Homo sapiens: one gene and its partners. The protein of the gene in region 4 interacts with the protein of the main gene of each other region in a biochemical or structural test. Each region holds a gene or a part of one and is shown on either strand. Other genes may lie near its edges.

Evidence for each region. The genes of interacting proteins can lie anywhere in the genome.
Region 1: of the proteins of RFFL (region 4) and STAM, one has a biochemical effect on the other in vitro, tested with the Homo sapiens proteins (one large-scale study listed by BioGRID).
Region 2: of the proteins of RFFL (region 4) and OTUB2, one has a biochemical effect on the other in vitro, tested with the Homo sapiens proteins (one large-scale study listed by BioGRID).
Region 3: of the proteins of RFFL (region 4) and ESPL1, one has a biochemical effect on the other in vitro, tested with the Homo sapiens proteins (one large-scale study listed by BioGRID).

The regions. Positions count from the first base shown.
Region 1 is NC_000010.11:17,685,651-17,689,150, reverse strand, and holds part of STAM (signal transducing adapter molecule 1), read right to left. Parts: intron 1,125-3,500; coding exon 978-1,124; intron 1-977. UniProt on the Homo sapiens protein: Involved in intracellular signal transduction mediated by cytokines and growth factors. Upon IL-2 and GM-CSL stimulation, it plays a role in signaling leading to DNA synthesis and MYC induction. May also play a role in T-cell development.
Region 2 is NC_000014.9:94,025,143-94,029,139, forward strand, and holds the start of OTUB2 (ubiquitin thioesterase OTUB2), read left to right. Parts: upstream 1-1,197; 5' UTR 1,198-1,395; coding exon 1,396-1,398; intron 1,399-3,997. UniProt on the Homo sapiens protein: Hydrolase that can remove conjugated ubiquitin from proteins in vitro and may therefore play an important regulatory role at the level of protein turnover by preventing degradation.
Region 3 is NC_000012.12:53,278,299-53,281,798, forward strand, and holds part of ESPL1 (separin), read left to right. Parts: intron 1-1,433; coding exon 1,434-1,568; intron 1,569-3,208; coding exon 3,209-3,328; intron 3,329-3,500. UniProt on the Homo sapiens protein: Caspase-like protease, which plays a central role in the chromosome segregation by cleaving the SCC1/RAD21 subunit of the cohesin complex at the onset of anaphase. During most of the cell cycle, it is inactivated by different mechanisms.
Region 4 is NC_000017.11:35,053,708-35,057,207, reverse strand, and holds part of RFFL (E3 ubiquitin-protein ligase rififylin), read left to right. Parts: intron 1-2,713; exon of another isoform or gene 2,714-2,820; intron 2,821-3,500.

The sequences.
Region 1 (3,500 bases), on a different chromosome or scaffold from region 4:
TAAAAAAGACATTTCTTGATTTTTTTCTACATGACATAAATTAGAGACTGAATTTTTTTGGCACAAGGGTGGACAGGAGAGCAAAGTTAAGCTATTTAGCCATATCCACTGGGGAAAGGAAGACTTATGTACTGGTCGGCTCTTACTAAGGAGAAAATGCTTCAGGTGCTTCTCTTCCCATTTACCCCTTCTAAAGTCCTCTCATTGTTAATAGAGGAATTCATAAATTTCCTCCACAAAAGAATCTCTCAAGTCATCCCTAACTTTTAAGGATATCCTGATTTCTGAGCTATCATTCTTTGTAGAAAATTATAGCATTAAGAGCATTTAAAAAGACAGTGTTACCTAATTAATAAAGCTATTTTGTGTATATTATTAAAACTGTACTGGCTGGGCCTGGTGGCTCACACCTGTAATCCTAGCACTTTGGGAGGCCGAGGCGGGCAGAACACCTGAGGTCAGGAGTTCGAAACCAGCCTGGCCAACATGGTGAAACCCACCTCTATTTAAAAAAAAAAAAAATTTCCAGGTCTGGCTGCACGTGCATGTAGTCCCAGCTACTCAGGAGGCTGCGGCAGGAGAATCACCTGAACCCAGGAGGCAGAGGTGGCAGTGAGCCGAGATCACGCTACTGCACTCTACCCAGGGCGACAAACAAAGACTCCGTCTCAAAAACAAACAAACAAAAACTATACCAAAAAATTTCAAAAACTGCAAAATGTTAAACCAATTCGTTTATAAAGAAGTAGAGAGGTTAGAGCACATTAATATTCCATTATAATACTTTTCTGGCACCTCTGAATGCCAGAAAACTAGTATTACTAACTAGCAATACAACTAGTTACTAACACAATTAGCTAACGAAAATTCCTCTGAAGTAGTAAAAATTACCTGGGAATGAAGAAAAAAATTCAAATAAATATAGCTATTTAAGAGAAACAAACTGTAGCACACACACAACTTCATTCCCAAAATACCTGAGAGCCAATAGCTGGGAACGTAACTCCTTGTTCCTTAAGGTTCTTAATCATTGCTGATATTAGACTAAGCTGTGGATCATTCTTAAATTCATCTGTCCATTCAACCATAAGAGCCTTTAATTTTTCACATACTTTAGGATGACCCTGTAAAATAGAAAAAGAAATAAAAGAGCACCAATTTCCTAGCCAATGATTTAATACAGACATTTTAAATAGTAAAGTTATTAAGTGATGTTTTTTGAATCACAAGTTATGCATAGCTATAGACAAGAAAATATAGTTATTCGAAATAAAACTAATGTTCACACTATGAAAAAACCCATCATATATATCTCACTTCAAATTAAAGCATTAAATAGGTAATAAGATTTTGGAGATCTGAAAGGACTTTTCAGAATATTTTGCAACGAAGCAAGGTTTGTACATCAGTAAGACAAGGAAAAGTGTCTGCTTTTTGCAAAGCAATAAAAAAGTGGGAAGGAGAGAATAAATGATACAGTTCCTTTATTCCAAATTCCTGACTTCTTAATGTTCATGACTATGCATTTTTTCCATGATGCTTAATTATCTGGGGCCTAGTTTGAGGTACACTGCATGTTAATCATTTTGAAAATTTAATTTCTTCAAAATAACATAACTTTTTTTCCTTTCTTTTCTTTTCTTTTTTTTTGGTTTGTTTTTTGAGACAGAGTCTCACCCTGTGGCAGAAGCCGGACTGCAGTGGCTCGATCTCAGCACACTGCAACCTCCGCCTCCCAGAGGGGGGTGGGGGATGCGGTTCAAGCGATTCTCTTGTGTCAACCTCCCGAGTAGGATTACAGGCGCGCACCACCATGCCCAGCTAATTTTTGTACTTTTAGCAGACGCGGGGTTTTACCATGTTGGCCAGGCTGGTCTTGAACTCCTGACCCCAACTGATTCGCCCGCCTCAGCCTCCCAAAGTGCTGCGATTACAGGCATGAGCCACCGTGCCCAGCCCAAAATAACATAACTCTTTATGGTTGATGTATAACAAAGATTCAAGTTAGTCTAAGGCAGGTGTGCAGGGCATTATTCTTCCGTATTAAAGAAAGAGATAAATGTAGTGAGTTTTCAAAATAAATTATTTTACTCATTGCTTATTAAGGGAAAAAACCTGGCCAGTTCATTAAAATACTGATGTATCTTCATAGCGGCAATAATTTGAAGTCTTACTATTTGATGTAATAGATATAAAGAAACCTTCACAGATACCAGAGAAGAAATAACTCCTCTATGAAATGTCATGAATGTATTTCAAACCAATGCTTACTAAATAATTGGCTAAAGCTTTTAAAAATGGAGAAGGTTAGACTTTTAGATTACTCTATTAGAAGAAAAAAAATTCTTTCTAAGTGCACATGTAATCTGTATTTTGGTCAAGGAGCATATAATGGATTTGCAAACGCTTTATTGAGACTATACATGAACTTAATTTGTTTAATAAAAGGAAATTTTTTAAAAGGGCAGGATGTTGGCTGGGCGCGGTGGCTCATGCCTGTAATCCCAGCACTTTGGAAGGCCGAGGTGGGCAATCACAAGGTCAGGAGTTCGAGACTGGCCTGACCATCCCCATGGTGAAACCCCATCTCTGCTAACACTACAAAAACCAGCCAGGCGTGGTGGCGCATGCCTGTATTCCCAGCTACTCAGGAGGCTGAGGCAGGAGAATCACTTGAACCCGGGAGGCAGAGGCTATAGTCAGCTGAGATCACGCCACTGTACTCCAGCCTGGGTGACAAAGAGAGACACTGTCTCAAAAAAAAAAAAAAAAGGCGGGATGTTATTAAGTACAAAACCAATATGTTCACTGTAAAACATTCAGAAAATAAAGAGAAGTCCTCTTGCCTATAGGAAGTCGTTTTTGGAAATGGCTGCTTGCACTATTATACATAGGTAAGTATACCACATTTTTCACCTACATTACAAAAAACATGGTATTAGAATCTCTTCATAAACAGTTGTAATCTCGATGGACATTCAGGACATTAAAAGACAATGTTTATTAATTAGTAGAAAATAAATATTAACTGCATAAAGCAGGAAAGGGAAAGAATTATCATTTAACCATGATGTTCGAAAAGTACAGAATTTTACATTCTTACTATATTTCTATACTGCTATTTTTCTACTGTAACCTGGAACTATTCATTTTTCCCAAAAACATGAGGCATTTTCCCTTTTAACATACAAAAACTTTTTCTTGATTTACAGTACTCCCCCTAAAAAGGCCAAAAATAATTACTTTTAGAATGCACAAATTTTTACTGGGGAAACTCACATATTACTAATTGAAAATTGAAAAATTTCTTGAACTGTGTGACTAGAATTCTACAGTTGAGTGGGCAGTTGTAGGGTCCCCAGTTCTCCCTGCTTTCTTTCTGTGTCCCAATAGAAAAACAGAGTGCCTTGTCCCGCTCTGTGACCTAGCCAGCTGCATGTTTTCCACCATAGGTTTGGACCCAAACTGGGGCCTTGAACATTCTCAGGCACTGATAAAGT
Region 2 (3,997 bases), on a different chromosome or scaffold from region 4:
GAAACCCCCCGAAAACAAATGGGGGTCAGGGGCGGAGGCAGGTAACACAGCCCCTGTAGTCACATGCAGAGTGAATTCGAAACCAGCTCTGGAGTCACACTGCCTGGGACTGAATCCCACTTCAGTGCTATGTGACTAAGGCAAGGAACGTAAACTCTCTGTACATGTTTCCTCATCTGTGAAACAGGGATAATAATAACAGGACCTACCCCCTTAAACCAGTTGTGAGGAAATTAAGTAAGATAATTCTGTATATGTGGAGAGTTCAGGATAGCGCCTGATACATAGTAGGTGTTCTGCATAACTGTGTAAATAACTGTAAAAAATTACCTGCTATTGTTACTGCTCCTTGAGCCTCCATTGACCTCACACTCCCTGCCCAGGACATGATACATGCTTGGAAGACTCAGATGTCTGTATGCCCAGAGCCTAGCCCAGTACCTGGGACTTACGTAGTAAGAGTGGGGCGCGGGGGGCGGGGGCGGGGGGCAGCAGCAGGAAGGGGAATTGCTCAATACACGCTCCTGGAAATATTAATTTTTTGAAGTGGATGCATGCAATGCACTGAGCCCCCCTCCCCTACAAACTCTCCCTCCCACACCCAAGCAGCTCCTCCAGGACTCAAGGGCTGGTGAATGAATCTTTGAATGATAAATATTCCTATTTTGATGTCCATTAATAATGAGCTTGTAGGCAAGATGAGTCATCTAGACCTGGTTCACGGATATCCCTACAATTCCAGAGCCACAGAGTCAACGATCCTGGACATTCATTCATTCAACAAACATTAACTGGGTGCGTGGCAACCTACTGATTCATGAGTTGGAAGAGGATAAAATATTATATAGAAGCCATACTTAATGTTATTGGACACGTGTTCCCTAAGCGCCTATCCTCTGATCTTGTGCAAACTATACTTATGTGACCTTGTTTATGAATTAATGACGGCCAGCTAATCCTTCAGAAGACTCCAATTTTAGGTTTGCGCAAAAGCCCTTCAGCCTTTACAAACGAGGACCTGTCTTTCTGGGTTGAGCTAACTCCTCTGCTAGTTAAAAGCTTTCCTGTGTCTTTAAAAGGGGGAGGCATCCTATCAAATGGACCCTAACGCATAGGCTGAAGGCACGTGAAGTCCCACCCACTTTCTATGACGTCCCGCGTCCCGGCTTCTGATTGCCCGCCTGAGACGTCAATCGCAGGGCGTGTGTCTTGCTGGGACACAGTGGAGGTCTAACCTTTGGTTTGCGGAGCGGTCGGGTGTATTCTCCGCCGCCCCCACGCCCTCGAGGTCCCCGCCACCGAACCAGCGGCGGAGCCCGCCCGCGCCTCCCGCGGCATTCCCGCACCGGATCGCTCCTCGCTGGGGCGGGACCTGGCCTGGCGGCTCTGGTCACTATGGTCAGTGATCGTGGGGGATCGCGAAGGGGGAGCGGGCAGGGGGCGCGGTGGGCGGGGTCGCTGCCGGAGCGGGTGCACCCGCGGGACGGGGGTCGGACGCGAGGCTCAGCCCCCAGCTCGCCCCCGCCGCTTTCCGACCCCCTGAAATACGGAGTCCGGACGGATACTGAGGGCCAAGTCGCGCCCCCCTGTACCCCGTGGATGTGCAGCTGAGGAGGTCCAGCTCGGCCCCGAGCCCCCGCCCCCAGCGTGTCCGCCCCAGGTGGCCCGGGGCGCCGCCTCGACGGCGCTGGGTGGGCGCCCTCGACGGAAGCAGGGACAGGGAGGCTGCAGCACTACGGGTCGCCTCCTCTTTGTTAAGTAGCCCCCCAGTCAGCAGTCCACGGCCCCACCCACCCGACGGCTCGGCCGTCAAAGACCTCCTGGCCCCTGCCCCAACCCCAAGGGAGGATCTAGGGGTTGCACGGGGCACCAGGTCGTCTGCTCCGTGGGCGACTAGACCGTCTCCATCTTTGGAGTCAGGACCCACCTAGAGAGGATGCCTCAAGTTGTGAGGCGCATGAGTTAGGGGTCGGGGAAAAGAAAATACTCAGGAATCCCTGATGGAGAGCCTTGTCTGCGCAGAACGAGGCCCAGAGACCCTCTGAGCCAGGCTAACCCTGGGCTTGGGCAGGTGGGGAAACTGAGGCCAGACAGGGCAGGGCTGGTACTGATTGTGGTGGACCTGGGGCTTGAACCCAGGCTCTGGACTCTCAGTTCAGTGCTCTTTGTGTTACATCGGCTCACCTTCCAGGTTGCCGTGGGGTCAGGCATCCTGCAGGGGACTGGGTGGCATGGCTGCCTAAGACCCTTCAACCCTGAGCAGGGGGAGCCTGTGGAGTGAGGGCTGGGTGGCTTGAGTCGGGGCCACACAGCCCCAGGTTCAAGTCTCACTTCCACCTGTTGGAAAGCGAAGAGGCTTTGGTTGGTCCGCTCTCCCCCTCAGCACCGTTTTGCACATCTGTGTCATGGGAACCATGTGATATGATTAGCTGGAGCTTTTCCTGTGACAACAGAGTCCTGGAAATGGGTGTGCACAGATGCCTGGTTCTTCAAGCTTAGCCTCCTCTCTCCTATGACTGGGCAGGAAAATGGGTCACCACGGCAGCATGCTGCCGGGCTGGGGCATGGGTCAAAGCCTGGTCATGGCCTGGCACGATCTGGGTGTGGCATAGGCAGCCAGGGCACTCGAGCTGGGACTGTCCTTGCCAAGCCAGCCTGCTGCCTGGGGCATAGCTGGGGGCCTCTGGAGCATCTGGAAGCACCAGCTTCCTGCTTCCACTTGGTGCCCAAGGGTTTACCTGGTTGAGCTGCTCCTGGAAGGCAGCCCAGGTGTTTCTGCATCACCCACCAGGGAGTGGTGGAGCTGGGGTAATGATGGGCTTAGCCACCCGGGAGCTGGAGGCTGGCATGCCCTCTGGCCACCACTCGGCAGCTGAGAGCACAGCAGAGGCGGTAGCTGCTCTTTGTGCCATGCAGTGAGGCCGCTCACTCTGCTCCCTATCTGCCCTGACTCAGGAGACTGGAAGTTAGATGGCAGATGGGGTCCAAAGCCCTCACCCCTCACCGGGGGCTTGGGTGCCTTGGCGAAGGATGAAGTGGTTAACCCACTAAAATATGACGTCTGTCTGGTAATCACAGGGGTGGAGGCCATGCAGGGTCTTTTCCCTTCCCTGCACATGGCATTTATTGAGCACCTACTGCATGCGGGGACCATACTGGGCCCTGTGCTGCATGGTGGGTTTTTATGTTGAACTTGCATTGTGTGGATGGTGGTGACAGAAGGAATATCCTTGGAAAATACAGCATCTTCTTTACTTTCCTGTTTCTACATCACTGGGCTAAGCTTGAGGAAGGGCGCCCCGTGGAAGACACAAAGACACTTGGGAAGGTAGGGGTGAGACAAGGACCAGACCTCTGGCAGGGACTGCAAATAGCTAGGGTTCTCGTGCACTCAAGGTGCATTTCATGTTTGACGAATGAATGAGTCAGACATAAGCAGGAAAACCGCAGGGTCCTATTGTGCTTTGTTCTGTTATTTGTCAAACAGGCCCCCAGTGGGCACCTTTGTCAGGCCTGTGCTGGGCACTGTGACACTGATGAGAAAGACAAGGTGCCTGCCCGCTGTAGGAGCTCACTGCCTGCTGGCCAAGACAGCTGGACACAAGCAGTGTCTGAGCTACAGGTCATGCCTAAGAGGCCTAAGGACATTGGGAACACAGTGAGAGGTCAATATGCTCTGAGGGAGTGGGGGTGTTGGAAGGTTCTGCAGAGGAGGTCTTTTGAGCTGAGTTGAAGGATGTATATGAGTGTTCAAGAAGGATTTGGGAAGGGCACATTCCTTTTGGCGGGTGCGGGGGGACAGTGGGCTATCAGGCCTTGAAGCATGGTCAAGAATAGGGGATTTTGGCAAAGGTGAACAGCCTCTGAAGATGCAAGGAGATTGAGGGAGGCAGGGAAATTGAGTCTAGAAAATTTGGTGGGGTCAGGATGTTCTGTGCAGGGCCTCACTTGCTGTGCTGTGGGGTTTGGGTTTTATTCCACCAATGAGGGGGAAACC
Region 3 (3,500 bases), on a different chromosome or scaffold from region 4:
ACCCCGTCTCTACAAGAAATAAAAAAAATATAGCCCGGTGCGGTGGCATGTGCCTGTAATCCCAGCTACTCAGGTGGCTGAGGCAGGAGAATCCCTTGAGCCAGGAGGTAGAGGTTGCAGTGAGCCAAGATCGCGCCACTGCACTCCATCCTGGGGGACAGAGCAAGATGCTGTTTCACGCTATTTCATTAAAAAAAAAAAAGTTAGCTTTAATTATTAGATGATTTGTTACCTATCAGAAAAATACATAGATGCCTTTAGACACAATTTTACATTCTTACATTCTTATGTGTGCCTTCTTTTTTTTTTTCAAGATGGAGTCTCACTCTGTCGCCCAGGCTGGAGTGCAGTGGCGCAATCTGGGCTCACTGCAACTTCCGCCATCTGGGTTCAAGTGATTCTCCTGCCTCAGCCTCCTGAGTAGCTGGGACTACAGGCACGCAACCACGCCTGGCTACTTTTTTGTATTTTTAGTATAGACAGGGTTTCACCATATTGGCCAGGCCGGTCTCGATCTCCTCAGGTGATCCACCCGCCTCAGCCTCCCAAAGTGCTGGGATTACAGGCGTGAGCCACCGCACCCAGCTTTCCGCCCCGCCCCCCCGCCGAGATAGAGTCTTGCTCTGTTACCCAGGCTGGAGTGCAGTGGCGTGATCTCAGCTCACTGCAACCTCCACCTCCTGGGTTCAAGCGATTCTCCTGGCTCACTCAGCCTCCTGAGTAGCTGGGACTACAGGCGCATACCACCACACCCTGCTAATTTTGTATTATTGGTAGAGATGGGGTTTCACTATGTTGGCCAGGCTGATCTCGAACTCCTGATCTCAGGTGACCCGTCTGCCTCAGCCTTTCAAAGTGCTGGGGTTACAGGCATGAGCCACTGTGCCTGGCCTATAAGGCCATGTACATTCTTATTTCAGGGAGTTTCACAAAATTCCTGAAGCTCTACCCTAGACTCCACATTAGGAAACAAACAAACAAACAAAAAGCCTTTATACATGCTGTTAACTATGAGCTATTAAACCATATTTCTAGCAGGGGAAGCTACCTCAGCCCTAGATTTGAGACTTGGTTCTGCCACATACCTGTTATATGAACTTAGACAAGCAACTTAACCCATGTGAGTCTTAGCTTCCTGTACTGTAAAATTGGGATTAGACTTGTTATGAAGGTTAAATGCACTGATGCATGTAAGCCTGGGCACAGTGCCTGGCACATAGTAAGAACTCAGAAAATCCTGGCTATTGATGATGAATGGCATCTAGGCTTTAAAACAGTAGGGGTGGGGTGATGATTGCTTCATCTGGGTAACTACATTCCACCCAGGCCCTGAGGTCAAACTACAGTCCAAGGTCCCAAAGGGCTGGGGAGCAGAGGGTAGAAATAGAGGCTTGAGCAGGGGTGGAGTAAACTTGGCTGCTTCTGCTGACCAGCCCATGCAGGCTCTGGAGGTCCTCCTGCTGCTACGGATTGTCTCTGAGAGACTGAAGGACCACTCGAAGGCAGCTGGCTCCTCCTGCCACATCACCCAGCTCCTCCTGACCCTCGGCTGTCCCAGCTATGCCCAGGTGAGTGCCCAACCAGCCTAGTCTGGGGACTGCAGGGGGCCCGTAGCTTTAGAGGCCCACCTCTGAGAAGACAGGATATCAAAGGGGCAGCTTCTCGGCCTTTTACCACCACAACTGGCTGGAGAATTGTGGAGTGTGGAGCAGTTGGAGGCAGCTGTAAGAAGGGGAGTCATCTTTGTCCTTCCTGCAAAACCAGTTGTTCATTAAGTTTACAGACTGCTGCAGGAACCTACCGCCAGTCTTGTATTTCCTAACTGGTTCTGTTGCCCTAGTTGATGCTTCATTGCTCATGTAAAGCTATCACAGTGTCTCCTGGTTGGTCTCCTTGCCTCCAGTTTCTCCCTTTTCTACTTCGTCTTCTTAACGACCACTGGTAGGCACAGGTGTGATGTAATCTCTTTCCTGCTTAACCCTGTTCCCTTTTGCCCCAATAATACTTGCCAGCGCTTACGGCTGCAGTGTTTACCCCTGGATAACTTTGCCACAAAATATCTCACTCTTACTATTTTTGCATCACTCTAGTATATTGACTTTGGAAACAGAAGACATCATTCTGTTTATAGCATTCTGTTTTTAGTGGTGTCATTTCCATTTCCATTTCCATTTCCACTTCCACGTCACCCTCCCGAGTAACTGGGACTACAGGTACATGCCACCACACCTGGCTAATTTTTAAATGTTTTGTAGAGACAGAGTCTCACTATGTTGCCCAGGCTGGTCTTGAACTCCTGGGCTCAAGTGATCTCCCACCTCAGCCTCCCAAAGTACTGATAATACAGGCATGAGCCACCGTGCCCAGCTACTGCTTACTCTGTATATAGCTTTAATCTAAAAGTGGTTAACCAGGCTGAGCGCAGTGGCTCACACGTGTAATCCCAGCATTTTGGGAGGCTGAGGTGGGCAGATCACCTGAGGTCAGGAGTTGGAGACCAGCCTGACCAACATGGAGAAACCCCGTCTCTACTAAAAATACAAAATTAGCCAGGTATGGTGGCGCATGCCCGTAATCCCAGCTACCTGGGAGGCTGAGACAGGAGAGCACTTGATCCCGGGAGGCGGAGGTTGCGGTGAGCTGAGATCACACCATTGCACTCCAGCCTGGGCAACAAGAGCGAAACTCCGTCCTAAAAAAAAAAAAGTGGTTAACCAAGTGTTAAATGGACATTTTAGAGAGTGAATCAATAACTCCTATGCAGATTATAATATCTGAAATAATGTAATATTTATTGGACATGTTGAACATTTTGCTTGTAAATACTTTACTCCACTTTTTTTTTTTTTTTTTTTTTGAGACGGAGTCTCACTCTGTTGCCCAGGCTGGAGTGCAGTGGCGCGATCTCCATTCACTGCAACCTCTGCCTCTCGGGTTCAAGTGATTCTCATGCCTCAGCCTCCCGAGTAGCTGGGATTACAGGCGCGTGCCACCACACCTGGCTAATTTTTGTATTTTTAGTAGAGATGGGGGTGTCACCATGTTGGCCAGGCTGGTCTTGAACTCCTGACCTCAGGTGATCCGCCCACCTTGGCCTCCCAAAGTGCTGGGATTACAGGTGTGAGCCACATGGCCACCCTTATTTACTCCAGTTTTGTTTGAAGAGCCTGGCTGCCTTTCCTCATGTGCCCTCTGATTGCTTCCTTAGTTACACCTGGAAGAGGCAGCATCGAGCCTGAAGCATCTCGATCAGACTACTGACACATACCTGCTCCTTTCCCTGACCTGTGATCTGCTTCGAAGTCAACTCTACTGGACTCACCAGAAGGTATTTCTCACTTTCTTAAACTCCGAAGGCCCTGGGTATTAGAAAGAATTTAGGATTTTCTTGATATTTGCCTGGCTTTTGAGATTTCCCTGGAGCTAGGCAGTATGTTCCTGACCCTGAGAGGCAGGCATATTTCCTAGCCTTGCCCTCGCCAGCGATTTGCTCACCAGTC
Region 4 (3,500 bases):
GTGGCTCACACCTGTAATCCTAGCACTTTGGGAGGCTGAGGCAGGTGGATCACCTGAGGTCAGGAGTTTGAGACCAGCCTGGTCAACGTGGTGAAACCCCATCTCTACTAAAAATATAAAAAATTTTAGCCAGGCATGGTGGCTTATGCCTGTAATCCGTGCTACTCGGGAGGCTGAGGCAGGAGAATTGTTGGAACCCGGGAGGTGGATGTTGCAGTGAGCCGAGGTTGCACCACTGTACTCCAGCCTGGGTAACAAAAGTGAAAACTCTGTCTCAAAAAAAAAGAAAAAGAAAAAAAAAAAGGGTGGTGGGACACCATTGAAGGCTTAAAACAGAAAGTGACAAGCAAAGATTCTTTTTCTAAATAAAAGGTTACCCTGGCTACTCTGTAGAGAATAGAGAGTCACAAAGAAGGGACCAGTAAGGAAGTGTTTGTCTCCCTTCTTGAGAAGGATCATCGCAGATAGGGCAGGATATGGCAGTGGACATAGAACGGGATAGTTGCAGGATGCATTTAAAAAGTAGAACCAGGCTGGGCATGGTGGCTCACGCCTGTAATCCCAGCACTTTGGGAGGCTGAAGTGGGCAGATCACCTGAGGTCAGGAGTTTGAGACCAGCCTGACCAACATGGAGAAATCCCGTCTCTACTAAAAATACAAAATTAGCCGGGCGTGGTGGTGCATGCCTGTAATCCCAGCTACTCAGAAGGCTGAGGCAGGAGAATCATTTGAACCCAGGAGGCGGAGGTTGTGGTGAGCCGAGATCATGCCACTGCATTCCAGCCTGGGCAACAGAGCAAAACTTTGTCTCAAAAAAAAAAAAAAAAAAAAGTAGAAGTAAAATTCACTAGAGAAGGAAAGGAAGAAGGAAGAGTATGGAGTACAGAACCCTAGGGCCTATGTAGGGGGCAAAAGAAGGAACCAGGGAAGGAAAATAAGGGAGCAAGAGTGGTCATTGATGTCAAAGGTAAGTCAGGCTACCACGCTTGCAGTGGGAGCCAGTGTGGGAGAAGGAGTCTGTAAGGGGAATTCAAGTGTATCCAGAGTAAGTGTGCTGTCTGATGTGTGGCAAGTCAATACCCAAGACCTGGGGGCGGGGTTTATTTGTTGGGCTGCAGAATGAGGAGATGAGAGGGAACTGCAAATCCGTCCTCCTGAGGAGTTTGGAGCTAGGGTTTTTAAGGATTTTGGAGTGGGCTGGAATGTGGAGATTGTTGGGTGGTCAGAGAGAGAAAGGTGAAGTAATGGGACCCGGAGATGAAAAAACTGTATTATGCTGATTTTATTTCTCTCTGAGGGTCTTCAAACTGGTTGGCATCAGCTGTTTTACCAGAATTTGGGATCTGAAAAATATCTCAAGCAATTCTTAAAAAAAAAGCCTTATGCTTCTAATGTCAGAGATACTATCTTTAGAAACAATAGGGATGCAAATGGTCAGTATCTAGCGCTGTGTGACTTTCAGTTACAAGGAAATGTGTCAAAATCCAGCCTGATTAATGTTTTTTTTTTGTTTGTTTGTTTGTTTGTTTTTTTTTGAGATGGAGTTTTGCTCTTGTGGCCCAGGCTGGAGTGCAATGGCATGATCTCGGCTCACTGCAACCTCTGCCTCCTGGGTTCAAGTGATTCTCCTGCCTCAGCCTCCTGAGTAGCTAGACTACAGGTGTGTGCCACCACACCTGGCTAATTTTGTATTTTTAGTAGAGATGGGTTTTCACCGTTTTGGCCAGGCTGGTCTCAAACTCCTGACCTCAGGTGATCCGCCCACCTTGGCCTCCCAAAGTGCTGGGATTACAGGTGAGCCATCGCACCTGGCCTAATGCTTAATTAAAGTTATATTTCTGTCCATAGTTCTTGGTAACCCTCTGAAGACAGCTTCATAATGAAGAATTTGGGTAGGTTTTGGGTGCATGGGGCTTCAGGGAGTCATGAAGGTTGAGGACATAGGAAAGAATCACACATTTATCCATCAGAAGATCATTGGTGACCATTGGCCGGGCGCTGTGGCTCACGCCTGTAATCCCAGCACTTTGGGAGGCCGAGGCAAGTGGATCACGAGGTCAGGAGATCGAGACCATCTTGGCTAACACGGTGAAACCCCGTGTCTACTAAAAATACAAAAAAATTGGCCAGGCGTGCTGGTGGGCACCCGTAGTCCCAGCTACTCAGGAGGCTGAGGCAGGAGAATGGCGTGAACCCGGGAGGTGGAGCTTGCAGTGAGCCAAAATCGCGCCACTGCACTCCAGCCTGGGCAACAAAGCAAGACTCAATCTCAAAAAAAAAAAAAAAGCTGTTGGATCGGTGTTTACTAAGCACCTACTCTAAGCCTGTCACTGTGTTAGTGTTAAGGATTTGTGTGAATGACCTCTTTTAGGTACTTCATTTTACAGATGAGAAAAATGACGCTTAGGGAATTAATCACCTTAACAGGTCACACAGAAAGAAGACTATGAGTTCTGTCTGACCCAGGCCCCATGCTCCTAAACCTTGCATGACACTGCTCTTTGGAAAGCCCTATCAGGACATCAGCTAGAGAGGAATGAAAGGTTTTTAGAGCCCAGTGATGGCTTACCCCAGCTGTATGAATTTGTTAGCAACCCAGTTAAATAAAGTCTTCTGATTTTTCTATAGTAATCTGGCAGTTTAGGAATGGAGAGGTGGGGGAGGGAGGGGAAGATAAAAGATAGAGTAAGAGTTCAGTAAATTAGAAAGGGGATTATTTTGTTGTTCATAAGTGTAATGATTGGATTTTCATGCACATGTATGAGATGTGCCTCCATCAAGCCTTGTTACTACAAAGTCAGTGCATTACCCATCTGATGTGGGAAAAATAAATCAGAAAGAGGCCTCAGCTTGTGGGAATGGTGGAATGCAATGGCTTGTGTTGTTAAGCAAAATTGTGTTTTACAGTAAATATTTATTGTGGTTCTTTTGATGCAAGTTATATTGGGATATGGAGGAAAATGCAAAAATGGATAAGATGGTGTATTTGACCTCTACACGGTTAGAGAGGAAGGTAAAGTGCTTCACTATAGTGCTTGATTGAAGGGTATGACAGGGGTGGAAGGTGGAGAAGTATGGGAAAGTATTATACAAGTTAGCTTGTAGAGCGAGGGTGGCATTAGGTAGGGCTGGCCAGGGTGGTGCCAATCTAGCTTCTCAGGATGACCCCTCAGGATTTTGGTCACTGTGTCGTCAGTCTAGTCTTGGGTCACAAAATGTATTTTGTGGAGAACCTGGAAATAATTAGTCTTGAAGACAGGATTGTATTCAGACTTGAGTGATTGAGCTCAGAATGGAATGCCAATTTATTATTTTAGAATGAAGGATTCCTTTTCCGTTAACGGGATTCTGGAATTTGTTAGGATAATTGCTTTTCAATATCAAGAGATCTGGCAATCAAATTTAATAATATCAAGCTTGCTTGGTGAGCATGGATTTATAAGATAGAATGGTTTGTGGGGGAGAATATAGTTACAAAAAAGATTATTGTTTCCCATAA